Regions from separate parts of the Homo sapiens genome. Here region 1 is linked to region 2. Evidence: fine-mapped QTL for protein levels in blood plasma. Region 2 holds a variant in brackets. A gene starts in the other region. All regions are shown on their reverse strands.

Region 1 (2,907 bases), not on the chromosome of region 2:
ATAGCATGACAAGAAGGGAAGGCAGCTGGAGGGGAGAGAGGATGAACTTGGAGGCATTGGAGCCCAGGGCTCCAGAGAACAACAAACAGTTACTAAACTCTTCCTCTTCAGTTTCAGCAGAGTCTATAAACTCAGTACTATTATTATCCCACTTTCACACACAATAAAACTGAATCTCAGGGCCAGGAGCAGTGGCTCACGCCTGTAATCCCAGCACTTTGGGAGGCCGAGGCTGGGGATTACCTGAGGTCAGGAGTTTGAGACCAGCCTGGCCAACATGGAGAGACCCTGTCTCTATTAAAAATACAAAAATTAGCCAGATGTGCTGGTAGGCACCTACAGTCCCAGCTACTGGGAAAGCTGAGGCAGGAGAATCGCTTGAACCCAGGAGGCAGAGGTTGCAGTGAGCCAAGATCGCGCCACTGGACTCTAGCCTGGGAGACAGAGCGAGACTCCGTCTAAAAACAAAACAACACTGAATCTCAATAGGGTCAAGTAATGTGTACCCGGCCACATATAATTGGTGGGACTAAAGCATCAGTTCCTACAGTCTGACTCCAGAGTCCTTTCTTTGACACTATGAGGAATTCCCTGAAGATACTCTTGGGACTACCTGCATGGGACTCACCCGAAGCACTTATTTCCAATGCCGATTCCAAGCCAGGCCTCATTCATCAAACTTTCTGTGGGCAGAGCTCCAGAGTAGAGAGTCAAACAGCATTCCCCATCCGTGTTCTGACCTTGGGAAGGGTTCTCCTTGGGCCTCAGTTTCCTCTTTTGTAAAATGAGGATCAGTGAGGTCACTTCCAGTTCAAAAATGAGCTGACTATAATTCATCTTTAAACCCAGCAACCTGGATGCAGCCTGCCAACCAGGCCTTTACCATATATCTCCTTATCTTTAAATATCCATGCTATTGAGCGGTATTTTAAGTACCACTAAATTTATAGTTTGATACACAAATACTCACAGAGTTTCCCTGGAAACCTAGGAGAACTGGACGTCCCTCCAATATGGCATTTTTGAGGTACAGCCCTCCCGCGGGGGAGGACTAAGCAACTTCTCTAGGTCTCTTCTCTTCTGCGGATTCTTTTTTTCTCTGCTTTCTTGGCACTGCTAAAGACAAAGAATTCATCGATAGTCTTAATTTTCCTTCCTCTCTGAAGTTACAATCTAATTTAGTGGTCATCTTTTAAAAGTTGAAACCAGACATCCTGTACTTCTCATTAGCTCTAACCTATGTTTGGTTTGCTCTGGTTTTGCTTTTCTGATTTTTTTCTTTGGAGAAAGAAAAGTGAGAACTAGGGGCATTGGCCAAACAAGTCTGTCCACTTGGTGGAGAGGTTTCCAGATAAGAAGGATCTGAAGGACTTCCCATGGGCGTGAGGGAAATCGCACACGCCATCCGGGGAAGAGGACCAGGAAATCACTTTTTGTTTTTAAAACAGCAGCGCGGCTCTCAGGGATGACTCTGTGAGACTGGGAGGATCATAGCTGGGGGAGGCTGAGCGTGGGAGCGGTGCTGCCAGTCCTGCCTGAAAACGCGAAATGAGTCTTGCTTGGTTCTCCCTCCACTGGGCGTGAGAGCCCCTGCCCAGGAGGCCCAGGACAAATGGCCCCATAGTGGAAACTGGGAAGCTTTTAGGCATCTGATCAGAGCGGGAGCCAGCCGGGGGACCACAGTGCTGGACAGGTAACAGACATTTCTCCTACTGCGGTCTGTCATTCTGTCTCCCTTTGTAGCAAGACCTCAGGGGCTCCTAAGTCACTTCTCTTAAGACATCTTCCACTTACGATCCTCTTTGCCTGCTTTTCTTTTGCGTAGGTGTGATATGTATGTTGGGAAAGTTAAGTATGTCCAGTCAAGAGCATTGTGCATACTGTTGGTCCAGTTAATGAGACTATATTAAAGGAGATGGCGTATCAAGCAACTAGCTGGGATCCTTTAGGATTTTCTTAATAACAGACTTTTTTTTTTTCAAACAAGTTCTCTCGTCCTTAAACCAGAAAATACTATAAAAACCAGTGCATTCATGAGCTACTGAGCTGCTGCTCTTGCCAAGAGCATTTCAGGGCCAGTCGGCCATTGCTGTGGTCAGGCTGAGGAAGGAAGAGGCTGCATCCCAGTAGCAGGAGGAGGGAGCCCTGGCTATTCGCTCAGCTTCGGGAGAGTCCTTCCAAAGGACAAGGGATGACCTTAGAAATGTAAAATGTAGGCTGCAGCCTCCCACACAGGACTGAGGGGAAAGGAGTTTGTAGTCAGCATTAGGAAGGAGGTCAGTAAAAGTGCTGGGGCTTCAGGGCCAGGCCGACTTGTTTTGAAAGGAGCAACTCTATGATGTGCGGTTTGCTTAAACCATGTTTTCTCATATTTCAGAAAGCCAGGTCATGCCACTTCACTACAGCATTTTTTCTTTCATAAAGGGCTAACGTAGTTGGTTTTTCAATGTAGGTTATTTTTGAATTACACAGATAATACTTGACTATATTCTTATCGTAAAAGAATATCTCTAAATAGATTTTATTTTTATTTTTATTTTTTTGAGATGGAGTCTTGCTCTGTCGCCCAGGTTGGAGTGCAGTGGCACGATCTTGGTTCACTACAACCTCTGCCTCCCGGGTTCAAACGATCCTCCTGCCTCAACCTCCCAAGCAGCTGGGATTACAGGCACCCGCCACCACACCCTGCTAATTTTTGTATTTTTAGTAGAGATGGGGTTTCACCATGTTAGCCAGGTTGGTCTCGAACTCCTGACCTCAGGTGATCCACCTGCCTCGGCCTCCCAAAATGCTGGAATTACGGGTGTCAGCCATCGCAGCCAGCTTTCTGTTAACAGTTTTCAATTGCACCCCCAATATACACTCTCTTCCCCCCCCCCAAATATTATTCTATCAATTGTTTTCTGT
Region 2 (2,907 bases):
CCCACTTCCTCATCCATAAAATGCTGTTGATAATAGTACCTGCCTCATGTAGTAGGTGTATCAAAGGAAACTGCTGGGGATTCGTATGCTGTCTAGCACACTGGATGTACTCAATGCATATGAGCAATACTATTACTATCGTTAGGCACGAGGGAAAGAGGGAAGGAAGTCGAAGAAGACTCGGGTTTTAGACAGAGCGAGTCGGGGAAAGGTGGTGTCTTGGGCTGGATGAGGAACCCAGGCGTGCAAGTGCATTTGGGAAACCTGTGAATTCCAGTTTTGGAAGTGCTGAATTTAGGATGCCTGGGGGACATGGATGGAAGCGGCCACTGCATGTTGAGAAGAGAGACTGGGCTGGAGTTGGAGATGGGGGATTCACAGCACATAAGGGGAGGTCTGGGCCAGCAGAGGACAGGAGGTCATTTGGAAAGGGAGCTTCCAATAGGAAGAAGACAGAACCCAGAGGGCCCAGCATGCAGAGGTGGTGGGAAGAAGGAAGCCCACAGGGGTGCGGGGGATTGTTGCAGATGGAGGAGGGAGGCCATCAGAAGGGACCCTGCCGAGGGAGAGGAGACCTCAGCCAGCACCCACTGGGTGCCTCACTTCTACTGAGCAGCCTACAAAGATAGGTGAGACCCTGGCGTGGCTCTGAAGAAACTGACAGACTCTAGGAGCTCCTGCAATTCTGTTTAATTGCTTCTTTTCTTTCTTCTCTCTTCCTTATGAACAAAGACTCTTCAGTCTTTGCTTATAAGGTAGAGCCTGTGGGAGCTCAGAGGCTCAGCCCTCTGTGTAGGGGGCAGGTCTGCTGAATGCATTACGTGGGTGGGCTGGCCAGACCAGATGTCCCGAGTTGCCTTCCAGATCCACGGAGCTTCCCCCGGGGCATCATGGCACACCGCCCCAGACAGTCGGTAGTTTGAGAAGAGAGTTAAATGCTCTGTTCGGGAAGGAAGGAAGTGTTGGAGGTCTCTAGGAATGCTATGCAGCTATATTACCATCTTTGGGATAGCAAAAGTTACATGCATTTCAAATTAATTTTAAAGCATGTCTAGCTTTGCAACAAAGCCACACATGTCTAGGGCAGGCAAGAAGCTAGATTTATGCAAATCGAATGATTAAATGTAAACACGTGTTAGAGGGAGCCTGATGGCTGGGCTCGGTGGCTCATGCCTGTAATCCCAGCACTTTAGGAGGCCAAGGCGGGTGGATCACCAGAGGTCAGGAGTTCAAGACCAGCCTGTCCAACATGATGAAACCCTGTCTCTACTGAAAATACAAAAACATTAGCCGGGCATGGTGGTGTGCACCTGTATTCCCAGCTACTTGAGAGGCTGAGGCACGAGAATCACTTGAAAGCAGGAAGTAGAAGCTGCAGTGAGCTGAGATAGTGCCACTGCACTCCAGCCTGGACAATAGAGTGAGACTCTGTCTCAAAAAAAAAAAAAAAAAAA[AG/G]CCTGATGATGAATGGGGTTGATGTGCTCAATATTTGCTCACATGGCTCAGCTGGTTAGTGTGGAGCTGCACCTCATCCACCCTACTGCCTGTCAAATTCTGCTCCCATTGTGATGAAAGACAGCCCCAATGCAAATATGTAAAAGATGCTCTCTATATACCCACTTTCTCTAGTAGGGCAACTCTGTCCAACTTCTTGCCCATATTCTGATAAGAGTGCACAGATTGTGAGCACAATTTGAACAGTGACTTTTAGCACTGTGCAAGGAAATCTTGAAATGCCAGTAACATCCAGGTTAGTTAATTTATAGGTACATAATGATGAAGAGGAAGATAGTACAAGAACAAAACACAGGTCTCTTGTGCTTAATGGGCCAGGAGTTGTTTTAAGTACTTTACGTGCAATAACTTGATCCTTACAACAACCATCACAAATGAGGAAACTGAGGCAGAGGTTAGGTAACTTGCCCAAGATTGCACAGTGAATAAGTGGGGGAGGCAGGATTTGAACCCAGGCAGGCTGCCTGCCTCAGAGTCCTTTTCTTTAGATACTATGGTAGCCACATCTCTGCATGATCTCATGTGACTTGATTAGCTTAACACAGCTTTTTCAAAAACTAAAATTTCTTTATCCTCTCCCTATTCCTAGTTTCTCCTTCCTTTCTTCCTTCCTTCCTTCCCTTCCCTCCTTCCCTTCCTTTCCTTCCTTCCCTTCCTTTCCTTCCTTCCTTCCTTCCCTTCCCTTCCTTCCTTCCCTTCCTTTCCTTCCTTCCCTTCCCTTCTTTTCCCTTCCCTTCCTTTCTTCCTTTCCCTTCCTTCCTTCCCTTCCTTTCCTTCCTTCCCTTCCCTTCCCTTCCCTTCCCTTCCCTTCTTTTCCCCTTCCCTTCCTTTCTTCCTTTCTGATGGAGTCTCATTCTTTCGCCCAGGCTGGAGTGCAGTGGCACAATCTTGACTCACTGCAGCCTCCGCCTCCCAGGTTCAAGAGATTCTCCTGCCTCAGCCTCCCAAGTAGTTGGGATTACATGTGCACACCATCACACCCAGCTAATTTTTGTATTTTTAGTAGACATGGTGGGGAGGTTTCGCCATGTTGGCCAGGCTGGACTCGAACTCCTGACCTCAAGTGATACACTTGCCTCAGCCTCCCAAAGTGCTGGGATTACAAGTGTGAGCCACCGCGCCTGGCCCTATTTTCATTTCTTTCTAATAGTTAGTGCTCTCTCTATCTCCTGCACTTGCTAATTCACATATATTCTCCCTTCAAATCTGCCTTGACAGCCTTCTGTTTTCAAGGGCCTCACAGCTACCTGGTTCCTTCTCTCAAAAGTTCCCTCTTCTGCAGGTAACTTCTCACTCACTTCCCTTGGACCACCCCTCTGTCTCTGTTAGTGTGAGGTGGGTTGTGTCCAGGGCCATCCACCAGAGGAAAGGGGAGAGAAGCCATACTTCTTG

Alleles and levels. Alleles are on the strand shown, and positions count from the first base shown. The strength of an association depends on the size of the effect and on how common the allele is.
For the plasma level of the protein whose gene starts at base 1,468 in region 1, G is the high allele of the variant in region 2 and AG is the other (weak association).

What was found. PIP is the posterior inclusion probability: the model's chance that the variant is causal. Protein levels are from antibody-based Olink assays in UK Biobank. Linkage for the fine-mapping came from a reference panel and not from the study's own genotypes, which makes the PIPs less certain.
Region 1: it holds the start of ADGRF5, and the variant in region 2 is fine-mapped to the plasma level of the ADGRF5 protein (UK Biobank, PIP above 0.99).

The regions. Positions count from the first base shown.
Region 1 is chr6:46,920,499-46,923,405 of GRCh38, reverse strand. It overlaps ADGRF5 (adhesion G protein-coupled receptor F5), which reads left to right and starts at 1,468. Exons shown (of 21, transcript NM_001098518.2): 1 at 1,468-1,693. It overlaps LOC105375080 (a long non-coding RNA gene), which reads right to left and starts at 1,327. Exons shown (of 3, transcript XR_001744147.2): 1 at 971-1,327.
Region 2 is chr1:236,097,771-236,100,677 of GRCh38, reverse strand. No RefSeq gene overlaps it. Among named protein-coding and RNA genes, the nearest start is that of NID1, 34 kb to the right of the region's middle. RefSeq lists an enhancer at 2,875-2,907. The variant AG/G (reference allele first, on the strand shown) is at 1,455.